2 linked regions of the Homo sapiens genome follow. The protein of the gene in region 1 purifies or fractionates together with the protein of each later gene. This does not show direct contact. Each region holds a gene or a part of one and is shown in the gene's direction. Other genes may lie near its edges.

Region 1 (7,026 bases):
CTCCCAAGTAGCTGGGATTACAGGCATGTGCCACCATACCTGGCTAATTTTTTTGTATTTTTAATAGAGACGGGGTTTTACCATGTTGGCCAAGCTGGTCTCAAACTCCTCCTGACCTCAAGTGATCCGCCTGCCTCAGCCTCCCAAATTGATGGGATTACAGGCATGAGCCACTATGCCCAGCCAGCCGGCCTCAGGACTGAGTGCTTATTGCTAGGTTTGGATATCCAGGTAGAAAAGGGTTTTAGCCGAGTGGCTGGTTATCTTTTTGACACAATCCCTGTCCTGTGAATGGCAGGCAGAGGAACGAGGACGCCTGAAGGAAGAGCTGGAAGAGGCTCGGGACATAGCCCGGCGGCGCTCTTTAGGGAATATCAAGTTTATTGGAGAGTTGTTCAAACTGAAGATGTTAACAGAGGCAATAATGCATGACTGTGTGGTCAAACTGCTTAAGAACCATGATGAAGAGTCCCTTGAGTGCCTTTGTCGTCTGCTCACCACCATTGGCAAAGACCTGGACTTTGAAAAAGCCAAGGTAGAGGTCCTTGCATCTGGAGGGGGATGGGCTGAAGCATATGTGGGGCTCACTGAGCCCACAATGATGGGGCGGAAGGCCTGAGGAGGGGTGGGGCCTGCAGTTATAGGTGGGACATGAGAAGTTCCTGGTCTGATGCCTTTCTCCTTCCTAGCCCCGAATGGATCAGTATTTCAACCAGATGGAAAAAATCATTAAAGAAAAGAAGACGTCATCCCGCATCCGCTTTATGCTGCAGGACGTGCTGGATCTGCGAGGGGTGTGTGTCCCCCTCCTCCCCACTGCCAGCCTGCTGCCTCCAGTTTCTGACACTGCCTTGTCTTGCCTTCCCTGACATCATCGTGACTGGCCCTCTGTCTCCACAGAGCAATTGGGTGCCACGCCGAGGGGATCAGGGTCCCAAGACCATTGACCAGATCCATAAGGAGGCTGAGATGGAAGAACATCGAGAGCACATCAAAGTGCAGCAGCTCATGGCCAAGGGCAGTGACAAGCGTCGGGGCGGTCCTCCAGGCCCTCCCATCAGTGAGTTCCAAGCTGGGATTGAGAAGGGAGCAGTGAAGGGACCGGGAGGTTATACTTTCCTCTGATGACTTCCTGTTAGTGCCACGTGTCTGGGCCACTGAGACACCATGATGGAACTGAGGATCTGAGGAAGGGAGGCTGGGGGTGGCCCAAGGGGAAGGGGCTGCTAGGATTTATTCATTATTCCAGTATGCCCCTCTTTTTGTGTCAGGCCGTGGACTTCCCCTTGTGGATGATGGTGGCTGGAACACAGTTCCCATCAGCAAAGGTAGCCGCCCCATTGACACCTCACGACTCACCAAGATCACCAAGGTAGGGGTGTGTGTGGGAGTGGGTGATTCAGCTCAGGTTTAGATCTTAGTCCCTTCACTTTTCTAAAGTTGAGAAGGTGACAGCTGAATGTTTCCTCTTAGACTAACTGGTTGGATTGCTGGAGACAGGACTGCCAGCTGTAGAGGGAGGGTGGTACTCCCATTAGTCTGGACCAGTGTTTGGCAAACACACACACACACACACACACACACACACACGTGCCAGATCCAGCCCATTCATACATCCCAGGACCCAGTAGTGGTTTTTACATTTTAAAGTTGCGAAAAATCAAAAAGTGAATGGTAATTTATGCTGTGGAAATTAAATAAAATGTAAATGTCAGTGTCCATGAAGTTTTATTGGAACACAGTCACAGCATGCCTTTATCATCTACAGCTGGTTTCATGCTACTGTGGCAGAATTGAGTAGTTGCAATAGAGACTGGCCCTTTATTAAAAAAGATTTTCTGACCCCTGGACTGGGCCATTCACTACCTGTTTGGTTGCATATGGTGGTGCTGGCCAAGGGACTCAGCCGGGTTGGACCTATGATTCTACTCCCCTTTTCTTCTTCAGCCTGGCTCCATCGATTCTAACAACCAGCTCTTTGCACCTGGAGGGCGACTGAGCTGGGGCAAGGGCAGCAGCGGAGGCTCAGGAGCCAAGCCCTCAGACGCAGGTATGGAGGCAGTGTCAGGAGCTGGGTGGTTACCCGTCAGAGCTCCCTTGAGGACAGAGCCTTTTCTGTTAGGGAGGCCTTCAGTACAAGGTGGTTAGGCAATGCGGGCAATAGAGGAGGTTTGTGTTGTGGTTCCAGGGATTGAACTGCTTTACTTTTGGGACTGGGACCAAGTGTCCTAAACTGGCAAGTAGGGGATAAAATGCAGGAAAGGAGAAAAAGATTTTAATACGGATTTTCTGCATCCCCAGCATCAGAAGCTGCTCGCCCAGCTACTAGTACTTTGAATCGCTTCTCAGCCCTTCAACAAGCGGTACCCACAGAAAGCACAGATAATAGACGTGTGGTGCAGAGGTGAGGTTTCCTGGACATCTTTGTTATTCACACTGGGGGTACCGTGATTGGGTTCTGGTTGTTGCCATAGGTTGGAAATTTCTTCATACCTGTCCTGGTTGGAGCCCTTGGGTTAGATTGGGGCATACTCATTATGCTAAGAACAAGGCCCAACAGTTGCTCAGCATGTTGTGTAATTACATGAGTGCCTGGGCAGTGCAAGTGAGTGAAAATTTGTCTGTCTGTCTTCCAGGAGTAGCTTGAGCCGAGAACGAGGCGAGAAAGCTGGAGACCGAGGAGACCGCCTAGAGCGGAGTGAACGGGGAGGGGACCGTGGGGACCGGCTTGATCGTGCGCGGACACCTGCTACCAAGCGGAGCTTCAGCAAGGAAGTGGAGGAGCGGAGTAGAGAACGGCCCTCCCAGCCTGAGGGGCTGCGCAAGGCAGCTAGCCTCACGGAGGATCGGGACCGTGGGCGGGATGCCGGTGAGAGTCTGGGAGAGGAATGGAGGGAAAGGCATTGGCTGCCTTGGGACTAGCTGGTCCCCAGCTTTTTGAGAGCTCCAAATCTTGTTTGCTGGGAAGACTGAAAAGTCCCTCTAATCTGTGTTCTCTTCCCACAGTGAAGCGAGAAGCTGCCCTACCCCCAGTGAGCCCCCTGAAGGCGGCTCTCTCTGAGGAGGAGTTAGAGAAGAAATCCAAGGCTATCATTGAGGAATATCTCCATCTCAATGACATGAAAGTAGGCAGTGGGAGCGGCGTGTGATTGAGGAGTGGGCAGGGAGGGATCATGCTGGCAGGCATAGGGGTCCGGGGTCTGGGTCAGACAGTGACTGGTCTCTTCCTGCTGTGCCCTGCACCCCTCAGGAGGCAGTCCAGTGCGTGCAGGAGCTGGCCTCACCCTCCTTGCTCTTCATCTTTGTACGGCATGGTGTCGAGTCTACGCTGGAGCGCAGTGCCATTGCTCGTGAGCATATGGGGCAGCTGCTGCACCAGCTGCTCTGTGCTGGGCATCTGTCTACTGCTCAGTACTACCAAGGGTATGACCAGCTTCTCTGGGCCTCCCACTTATACAGACCCACAATTTTCTATCTCCTTTTTGGGACCCTTGGAACCTTGCATAAGAGTGTAGGTTCCCTGGCCGGGTGTGGTGGCTTATGCCTGTAATCCCTGCACTTTGGGAGGCCAAGGTGGGTTGGATTCCTTAGAGGATCACGTGAGGTTGGGAGTTCTAGACCAGCCTGGCCAACATGGTGAAACCCTGTCTCTACTAATAATACAAAAATTAGCCAGGCGTGGTGGCACAGTAATCCCAGCTACTCGGAGGCTGAGGCAGGAGAACTGCTTGAACCCGGGAGGTGGAGGTTGCAGTGAGCCGAGATCGTGCCATTGCACTCCAGCCTGGGTGACAAAAGCAAAACTGTCTCAAAAAAAAAACCAAAAAACAGTATGGGTTCCTTGACCATCCTGGTCAGCATAACTTTAGGGGGTTAAGCGGGGTGAAAACCATCTAAGGACACAGAGGTGGCCTTAGCTTGAAATAATTGTCCCCATGTCTAGAAAATGTTCCTGGGGGTTCCATAGTTGATGCCCTAGCCATGCCACGTTGCCCCAGAAGGAGAGTGGGGACCTGGCCTAGAATGTCTTGACTTTGAATTCCCTTGGCAGGTTGTATGAAATCTTGGAATTGGCTGAGGACATGGAAATTGACATCCCCCACGTGTGGCTCTACCTAGCGGAACTGGTAACACCCATTCTGCAGGAAGGTGGGGTGCCCATGGGGGAGCTGTTCAGGTAAGTCCCCCTGGGTGGAATTCAGGGGAGGTAAAGACCAGAGGAAAGGTGGTAGGGAAATGGCTGGGTTGGATACCCTGGTTTGGAGGGAGATGGAGTAGTGGTGAGAGAACTGTGGAGGCTGTCAGCATTAGGTTTTTCTCTTCTTGTAGGGAGATTACAAAGCCTCTGAGACCGTTGGGCAAAGCTGCTTCCCTGTTGCTGGAGATCCTGGGCCTCCTGTGCAAAAGCATGGTGAGTGAGGGCCAGGAGTCCAGAGATGCCTCCCACGGTGTGGTTTTGGCTGTTTGCTGTGGCCCTGAAGCTTCATGGTCCATTGGTGGAGTGGAGTGATGGTGATGACAGGATTGTGTTGGTACCTGGGAGAGGAAATACTGAGGTGGGCCATCTCCCGCACACCAGTTCCTATCATGAGTTCTGGCCAAGACTGGAGGAGAATGGCAGTCTAAGACCCTAGGCCTGTGATTGATGCATTTATTTATTCATTCATTGAACTAGGGTTTTGTTGATGATCATTTATCATATACTAAGCACTAGGGACACAGCAATGAATAAAACACAAGAAACAAGTTGGTAGAGAAAAAGGAAGAAATGGGCCGGGCGCAGTGGCTCACGCCTGTAATCCCAGCACTTTGAGAGGCCGACGTGGGTGGATCACGAGGTCAGGAGTTCAAGACCAGCTTGGCCAATATGGTGAAACCCCATCTCTACTAAAAACACAAAAATTAGCCGTGTTGTGGCAGGTGCCTGTAATTCCACCTACTCAGGAGGCTGAGGCAGGAGAATCACTTGACCCGGGAGGCGGAGGTAGCAGTGAGCCGAGATTGTGCCACTGCACTCCAGCCTGGGAAACAGAGCAAGACTCTGTCTCCAAAAAAGAAAAAAGAAATGACAGCTTGATAAAAACAACAGTAAAGCGTGACATAAAACAGTTGAAATAGAGTGGAGTATCTTAAGTACTGTGGGGTTGCAAAGGAATATTTGACAATATTTGTGACAGGAGGCTTTCAGGGTGCTGAAGCGGCTTTGTGAAAGTTAATTGGTAACTAGCGAATATAAAGGTAAAGAGATGGGGAAAGGTAAGTTGAATGTGGTACTTAGTGGAAGTGAGAAGTTGGGGTGAGTGTGTGCAGTTTCAAGGGTTCAGCCATCTGGAACCTGGAGGAATCACACTTGGGATTTAAAGGAATTGTTATGTCAACATCATTTAATTCTTTTAAATAGACGTGTACCAGGACAAGTTGTTTTTTAACAACAAATAAGCATATTGAACTATTTGTGTATTTCATCAACTCCAAGGTGCCATAGATTATAAGACATTCTTTATGCGCTGTTAAGAAAGAAAAGACTGGGCCGGGCGTGGTAATCCCAGCACTTTGGGAGGCAGAGGTGGGTGGATCACGTGAGGTCAGGAGTTGGAAACCAGCCTGGCCAACATGATGAAACCCTGTATCTACTAAAAATACAAAAAAATTAGCTGGACATGGTGGTGCGCACCTGTAGTCCCAGCTACTTGGGAGGCTGAGGCAGGAGAATTGCTTGAACCCAGGAGGGGGAGGTTGCAGTAAGCCAAGATTGTGCCACTGCACTCCAGCCTGGGCGACAGAGCAAGACTCTGTCTCAAAATAAAAAAAGATATATATCGGCTGTAAGACAACTTTTAGTTAAAATGTGAAAAAATGGGCATGTTTTAAAATCTGTGAACTGCAATAATCTTGCTAAGAGCCAGTGCCATTAGTCTGTTATAAAGAAAAGAGTGATGTCTTCATAGTCTATTGCCCCTTACAGAAAATGCACTCAGACTGCTGGTTTTATGAGGATTTTTTATTTGTGTTAGGGATGGGGTATATTTGTGTCTTAAGATTTTCTGGGTTTAGGAAACAAGCATACTTGTTAGAAGTTGTCCCTTCCTAGAGGCCCTTACATCATTTTTCCTACCCTAGTGTCATAGCACTTTGGTGGACAAGTTCTCTTTTATTTTATTTTATTATTATTATTTTTTTGAGACAGAGTCTCGCTGTGTCGCCCAGGCTGGAGTGCAGTGGCGTGATCTCAGCTCATTGCAACCCTCGCCTTGGGTTCAAGCGATTCTCCTGCCTCAGCCTCCCGAGTAGCTGGGATTACAGGCACCCACCACCACGCCTGGCTAATTTTTGTATTTTCTGTAGAGACGGGGTTTCACCATGTTGGTCAGGCTGGTCTCCGACTCCTGACCTCAGGTGATCCGCCCACCTCGACCTTTCAGAGTGCTAGGATTACAGGCGTGAGCCACCGCCCGCTCCTGGGACGAGTTCTTATTTATTTGGGTGGTTATTTGACTGACATCTGTGCCCTGCACCAGACCGTAGGAATGGAAGGGCTTTGCCTATTAGTATTTCTATAGCATCCTTAATGCCTAGCAAGTACCTAGTAGGCTTTCAGTAAATATTTGTTGGATTAATGTGGTAGAGCTGTTGGGTCCTTGGAGAGAGAGAGCTTTGGTAAGCTGGGTTGGTCTTGTGTTTTCCAGGGTCCTAAAAAGGTGGGGACGCTGTGGCGAGAAGCCGGGCTTAGCTGGAAGGAATTTCTACCTGAAGGCCAGGACATTGGTGCATTCGTCGCTGAACAGGTTTGGGGATGGAGTTGGGTTAATTCTAGCATTTGAGGCTGGCCAGTCTTCTTTCTTGTCTCCTGTTGGCAACCTTACCTCTTAACTGCGGGCCTTTTCCATTGCAGAAGGTGGAGTATACCCTGGGAGAGGAGTCGGAAGCCCCTGGCCAGAGGGCACTCCCCTCCGAGGAGCTGAACAGGCAGCTGGAGAAGCTGCTGAAGGAGGGCAGCAGTAACCAGCGGGTGTTCGACTGGATAGA
Region 2 (6,724 bases), on another chromosome or scaffold:
TATGAGTAGTGCCACATTAGCAGGATGTCTGAGGAAAGAGTCTAGGTAAGAAGTTAAAATACTTGGCCAGGTGTGGTGGCTCACGCCTGTAATCCCAGCACTTTGGGAGGTTGAGGCAGGTGGATCACCTGAGGTCAGGAGTGCAAGACCAGCCTGGCCAACATGGTGAAACCCCGTCTATTAAAAATACAAAAATGAGCCAGGCATGGTGGTGGGCACCTGTAATCCCATCGACTCAGGAGGCTGAGGCAGAAGAATCGCTTGAAAGGTTGCAGTGAGCCGAGATCACACCATCGCACAGCAGCCTGCAGGACAAGAGCGAAACTCCATCTCAAAAAAAAAAAGGCCGGGCGCGGTGGCTCACACCTGTAATCCCAGCACTTTGGGAGGCTGAGGCGGGCGGATCACGGGTCAGGAGATCAAGACCATCCTGGCTAACACGGTGAAATCCCGTCTCTACTAAAAATACAAAAAATTAGCGGGGCATGGTGGCAGGCGCCTGTAGTCCCAGCTACTTGGGAGGCTGAGGCAGGAGAATGGCGTGAACCCGGGAGGCGGAGCTTGCAGTGAGAGCCGAGATTGCACCACTGCACTCCAGCCTGGGCAACAGAGTGAAACTGTCTCAAAAAAGAAAAAAAAAAAGAAAAGTTAAAATACTTTTTAAGTTTGGGTCACTGGAGCAAGACAAACAGTGAGATGTGATGGTAGCATTCTCTAGAATGTCCTCCCTGCAATTGCAATGGATGGTGTAGCCCAGACTTTGCCTGACTCCAGGAAAGCAGCTGGCCCTTCTCAAGACCAATTCGGCTGTCCGGACCTGCGGTTTTGACTTTGGGGGCAACATCATCATGTTCTCCACGGACAAGCAGATGGGCTACCAGTGCTTTGTGAGCTTTTTTGACCTGCGGGATCCGAGCCAGATTGGTGAGGGCTGGGAATAGGGCTGGGGTTGAGGTAAAGGGTACAGTTCTAGAGCCCAGGGCCTAACATCTACTGCCCCACACAGACAACAATGAGCCCTACATGAAGATCCCTTGCAATGACTCTAAAATCACCAGTGCTGTTTGGGGACCCCTGGGGGAGTGCATCATCGCTGGCCATGAGAGTGGAGAGCTCAACCAGTATAGTGCCAAGGTAAGAGGCCACATGGGGCCTGAGCCTACCAGAATAATTTTTTTTTTTTTTTTTAAGATAGAGTCTCTCTCTGTTGCCCAGGCTGGAGTGCAGTGGCGCCATCTCGGCTCACTGCGACCTCCACCTCCCTGGTTCAAGCAATTCCCCTGCCTTAGCCTCCCGAGTAGCTGGGATTACAGGTGCATGCCACCGCACCTGGCTAATTTTTTTTGTATTTTTAGTAGAGACAGGGTTTCACCATGTTGGTCAGTCTGGTCACGAACTCCTGACCTCAGGCAGTCCACCGCTCGTGGCTTTTTTTTTTTTTTTTTTTTTTTTTTGAGACAGAGTATCACCCTGTCACCCAGGCTGGAGTGCAGTGGTACGATCTCGGCTCACTGCAACCTCCACCTCCTGGGTTCAAGCCATTCTCCTGCCTCAGCCTCTTGAGTAGCTGGGACTATAGGCACCTGCCACCATGCCTGGGTAATTTTTGTATTTTTAGTAGAGATGGGGTTTCTCCATGTTGGCCAGGCTGGTCTTGAATCCTGACCTCCTGACCTCAGATGATCCACCTGCCTCGGGTCCTGGTGATAGCACACTAGTTCAGAACAAGGGCAGGGCTGTATGCTGTGGCTCACATCTGTAATCCCAGTGCCTTTGGGGGCCAAGGCAGGAGGATCTCTTGAGCCCAGGGGTTGGGGCTGCAGTGAGCTATGATTGCACCACTGCACTCCAGCCTGGGTGACAGTGAGACCCTGTCTCTAAAAAAAAAAAAAAAAAAAAAAAAGTTAATAAAAAATTTTAAAAAGAGCAGAGGTGAGATTCAAATGTAGATTTCACCACTTTCTAGCTGTGTGATCTTGGGCAATTTACATGACTTCTCTGACCCTGTTTATCTGTAAAATGTTTCAAGGATCAAATGATATCACATGTTTGAAAAACTTGTCACAAAGTACTCAGGACATGTTAATAAGGATCACAGGCCGGGTGTGGTGACTCACACTTGTAATCCCAACACTTTGGGAGGCTGTGGCAGGATTGCTTGAGACCCGGAGATTGAGATCAGCCTGGGCAATATAGGAAGACCCTGTCTCTACAAAAAAAAATTAAAAATTAGCTGGGTGTGGTGGAGTGTGCCTTTGGTCCCAGGTACTCAGGATGTTGAGGCTGAAAGATTGCTTGAGTCTGGGAGATTGAGGCTGCAGTGAGCCATGATTGTGCCACTGTACTCCAGCCTGGGTGATAGAACAAGACCCTGTCTCAAAAAAATAATTAAGGATCACAAATGAGCATTTCCTTGCCACCACTGAGTATAATGCCCTGTATAATGCTGAGTATAATGCTGAACTCCTAGAACAAAGAAGTAAATCAGATGCAGTCCCTTCCCCCATGGGGAGACAGACTTGCAAACAGCTAGCACCTGAGTCAGATTGTGAATTGTGCCACCATAGAGGTCTCAGCCAAGTGTGGAAGGTGCACTCTCCCAGGGAGGTGGCGTGTACATTAAACCCTGGAGAATAAATGGAGCTTCAAGCAGGAAGGAAAGAACATCCCACAGGCAAAAGGAACAGCAAAGGCAAAGGCACAGAGTTAAGAAAGTATGGAGTCTTCAGAAACCCTTGGGGTGTGGTCTTGGGGACAGAGGACGGGGAATAGATTTTAAACGTCCTTCAGTGTGAGGAGGTAAAGAGTTTTGACTTTCCTCCAGGCAGTAGGGAATCTTTAAAGGGTTATCAATGGCCAGATTTTCCTTCCAACAGCTTTTGCAGTTTATGTTTGGAGAGTGAACCTGAACTAGCCAATAGGCATAGGATGTACATTACTGGACAGAGTCAAGGGATATTTAGGGGTGACTGATAGGATAGAGGGGGTGAGGAAAACACAAAGTCCATGCTGTCTCAGCTTTCATTTGGGTGCTTGGGTTTCTGGGGAGCTGAGATTAGTAGGGATTGGGCCCATTCAGTGTCACTCTTCTTCCTTCCCTAGTCTGGAGAGGTGTTGGTGAATGTTAAGGAGCACTCCCGGCAGATCAACGACATCCAGTTATCCAGGGACATGACCATGTTTGTGACCGCGTCCAAGGACAACACAGCCAAGGTGAGCCTGGGCAGCGGTCTGGCAGGGCTGCTCCCTCCCTCCGGCTGCACAGCTCACCCTGCCCGACTTCCCCCAGGAAAGCTCTTTACAGATTTCCCCCCTGCCTTCTCTCTCCAGCTTTTTGACTCCACAACTCTTGAACATCAGAAGACTTTCCGGACAGAACGTCCTGTCAACTCAGCTGCCCTCTCCCCCAACTATGACCATGTAAGAGAACCCCACCTGCCTTCCTGCTGAAGCCTCAGGAAGCTTCCAAGTTCTAGATGCTTGTCCAGAAGTTGGGCTACAACATTGTGGGGGAAATGATGTCAGGCAGAGAGGAGATGCCCAGAGGAGTGACAAAGCTGGAAGGATTGAATAGCCCCAGGGCAGCCAGCAGGAGGTGGCAGAAGTGTCTGATCATCCCCTACCTTTGGTATCCTCCCATTGAGCCGTGTGAGATGTTAAAAATGTATATGGCAGCAGAAAAACACAAAATGGACTTGGTGTCCATTGGTCCCATCTAGAGTTTCTTCTTCCATTCAGGTGGTCCTGGGCGGTGGTCAGGAAGCCATGGATGTAACCACAACCTCCACCAGGATTGGCAAGTTTGAGGCCAGGTAAAGAAGAAGAGAGCTCTTCCAAATTAAAATCTCATGTGGTGTACCTTTTTTGTTTGTTTTTGTTTTTGAGATGGAGTCTCGCTCTGTCGCCTAGGCTGGAGCGCAGTGGCGTGATCTCTGCTCACTGCAAGCTCTGCCTCCCGGGTTGACGCCATTCTCCTGCCTCAGCGGCCCAGGCGCCCACCACCATGCCTGGCTAATTTTCTTTTTGTATTTTTAGTAGAGACGGGGTTTCACCGTGTTAGCAAGGATGGTCTCGATCTCCTGACCTCGTGATACGCCCGCCTCAGCCTCCCAAAGTGCTGGGATTACAGGCATGAGCCACCGTGCCCAGCCTTTTTTTTTTTTTTTTTTTTTGACACGGAGTCTTGCTCTGTCACCCAGGCTGGAGTGCAATGGCGCGATCTCTGCTCACTGCAACCTCTGCTTCCCGGGTTCAAGCAATTATCCTGCCTCTGCCTCCTGGGTGGCTGGGATTACAGGCACCCATGACCACGCCTGGCTAATTTTTGTATTTTTAGTAGAGACAGGATTTCACCATGTTTGCCAGGCTGGTCTTGAACTCCTGGCCTTAAGTAATCCGCCCACCTTGGCCTTCCAGAGTGCTGGGATTACAGGCATGAGCCACTGTGCCCAGCCTTCATTATATTTCTCTATGTCTAAATTTCCTCTACTGTATAATGAGACAATGACAATATACTTAACATAAAATTATGCAGATTAAATTATTCAGTTAATATTTATTAAGCTCTTTAAGCACTGCCCAGCACATAGTAGGCACTCTATAAGTATTAGTTATGTATTCAGGCAGACATCTGGGTCCAGTCTTCCCCATATAATAAAAAAGTTAAAAAAGTAAGAGACAGGGTCTCACTATGTTGCCCAGGCTGGCCTCGAACTCCTGGGCTCAAGCAATCCTCTGTCCTCAGCCTCCCAAAGTGCTGGGATTACAGGCGTGAACCATGGCACGCAGCCACCAATTTCCATCTTATTTTGTTCACATTCACTTCTTATCTCAATTTTTCTGCTTTATTATTATTATTTTTTGAGACAGGGTCTCACTCTGTTGCCCAGGCTGGAGTGCAGTGGCACCATCTCTGCTCACCGCAACCTCCTGGGCTCAAGCGATCCTTCTACCTCAGCTTCTGAGTAGCTGGGATTACAGGTACATGGCCACCGTCCCTGGCTGCTTTTTGTATTTTTAGTAGAGATGTTGGCCAGGCTGGTCTCAAACTCCTGGCCTCAAGTGATCCACCCGCCTCGGCCTCCCAAAGTGTTGGGATTACAGGCGTGAGCCACTGCGCCTCGGCTTCTGCTTTATTTTTTGTGATACAATTTGCATTTGAGGCCAGGTGTGGTGGCTCATGCCTGTAATCCCAGCACATTGGGAGGCTAAGGAAGGCGGCTTGAGGCCAGGAGTTCGTAACCAGCCTGGCCAACATGGTGAAACCCCATCTCTACTAAAAATACAAAAATTAGCCAGGCATCTGTAATCCCAACCACTCAGGAGGCTGAGGCAGGAGAATTGCTTGAACCCAGGAGGGGGAGGTTCCAGTGAACCGAGATTGCGCCACTGTACTCCACCCTGGGTGACAGAGTAAGACTCCATCTCAAAATAAATAAATAATAATAACAATTTGCATTTGGGGAGTGCCACCTCCAAAGTGTTTTGGAAGAAGATAGAAAGTGAATTAATTGTGTCCCTTTTCCTCCAGGTTCTTCCATTTGGCCTTTGAAGAAGAGTTTGGAAGAGTCAAGGGTCACTTTGGACCTATCAACAGTGTTGCCTTCCATCCTGATGGCAAGAGGTAGGGTACCAGTGAAGCAGCTGACCTAAGCCTGGGTTGGGTCTCTGCCTTTCCCAGAGTAAGCACCTGACTGGTGCCTGGCTATCTTTTTCCAGCTACAGCAGCGGCGGCGAAGATGGTTACGTCCGTATCCATTACTTCGACCCACAGTACTTCGAATTTGAGTTTGAGGCTTAAGAAGCTGGATCTCCTGCCGGGCGTGGTGGCTCATGCCTGTAATCCCACCACTTTTTTTTTAAGGCAGGCGGATCACCTGAGGTCAGGAGTTTAAGACCAGCCTGACCAACATGGAGAAACCTCGTCTCTACTAAAAATACAAAAATTAGCCAGGCATGGTGGCACACGCCTATAGTCCCAGCTACTCAGGAGGCTGAGGCAGGAGAATCACTTGAACCCAGGAGGCAGAGGTTGCAGTGAGCTGAGATCACGTCATTGCACTCCATCCTGAGCCACAAGAGCAAAACTCCGTCTCAAAAAAAAAAAAGAAGAAGGTGGATCTCCAACCAGGCCAGAGAAGATTCTCACAGAAGGTTTTGAACTCTAAGAAATAAATTGGTTTGGTAATAAATGGCTTCTGGTCAGATATTTTGTGGTGTCTGTTTCATCATTTTTCCTTTTCACTGACACCCCAGCAAGCTGATGCTGATCATGGAGACTTTTATTATTGAGACCTCCCTATACTTTGGACACTTCAAACTTAAGACCCTCAGTACTTTTGGCTAACCTGGGTTGCAGGCACCCTCATCCAAGGTGTAAAGGTCCTAAGGGGCCTGCAGAGGTTTCAGGAACATCTCAGCTGCTATCCAAGGAGCCAGTGCTTAGAATAGGGGCTCGGCTGAAGCAGTTGGCTGAGAGGCTTCTGTCTTCTCCCTTCCTGTCACTATTTGCCACACTCTTCCCCCATGCAGCTTCTGCAGGCTCAGGTGAGCAGGTCCAGCGCAGAAACAGGCCTGAGGAGGAGGAAGACAGGTCAGGACGCTGAGCAGAGGGGTAATACCCAGGGGAGAAGGTGTGGAGCTCACCTTGCCACAGCCGCAGGCTCTGGGGCTCCACAGATGGCCAAGGGATTGAGGAGGTAGAGTGGGTTCTGGAGTCTTTGTT

What was found. The genes of interacting proteins can lie anywhere in the genome.
Region 2: the proteins of EIF4G1 (region 1) and EIF3I purify together in Homo sapiens (affinity purification with mass spectrometry; 7 studies listed by BioGRID and IntAct, with this or other methods). This does not show direct contact.

Annotation. Positions count from the first base shown.
Region 1 is NC_000003.12:184,324,580-184,331,605, forward strand, and holds part of EIF4G1 (eukaryotic translation initiation factor 4 gamma 1), read left to right. Parts: intron 1-298; coding exon 299-535; intron 536-689; coding exon 690-794; intron 795-900; coding exon 901-1,060; intron 1,061-1,116; exon of another isoform or gene 1,117-1,192; intron 1,193-1,271; coding exon 1,272-1,372; intron 1,373-1,947; coding exon 1,948-2,050; intron 2,051-2,301; coding exon 2,302-2,404; intron 2,405-2,636; coding exon 2,637-2,869; intron 2,870-3,006; coding exon 3,007-3,125; intron 3,126-3,250; coding exon 3,251-3,423; intron 3,424-4,051; coding exon 4,052-4,177; intron 4,178-4,329; coding exon 4,330-4,411; intron 4,412-6,686; coding exon 6,687-6,785; intron 6,786-6,892; coding exon 6,893-7,026.
Region 2 is NC_000001.11:32,225,397-32,232,120, forward strand, and holds the end of EIF3I (eukaryotic translation initiation factor 3 subunit I), read left to right. Parts: intron 1-774; coding exon 775-924; intron 925-1,006; coding exon 1,007-1,134; intron 1,135-3,102; coding exon 3,103-3,213; intron 3,214-3,330; coding exon 3,331-3,420; intron 3,421-3,738; coding exon 3,739-3,812; intron 3,813-5,530; coding exon 5,531-5,623; intron 5,624-5,718; coding exon 5,719-5,800; 3' UTR 5,801-6,208; downstream 6,209-6,724. UniProt on the Homo sapiens protein: Component of the eukaryotic translation initiation factor 3 (eIF-3) complex, which is required for several steps in the initiation of protein synthesis.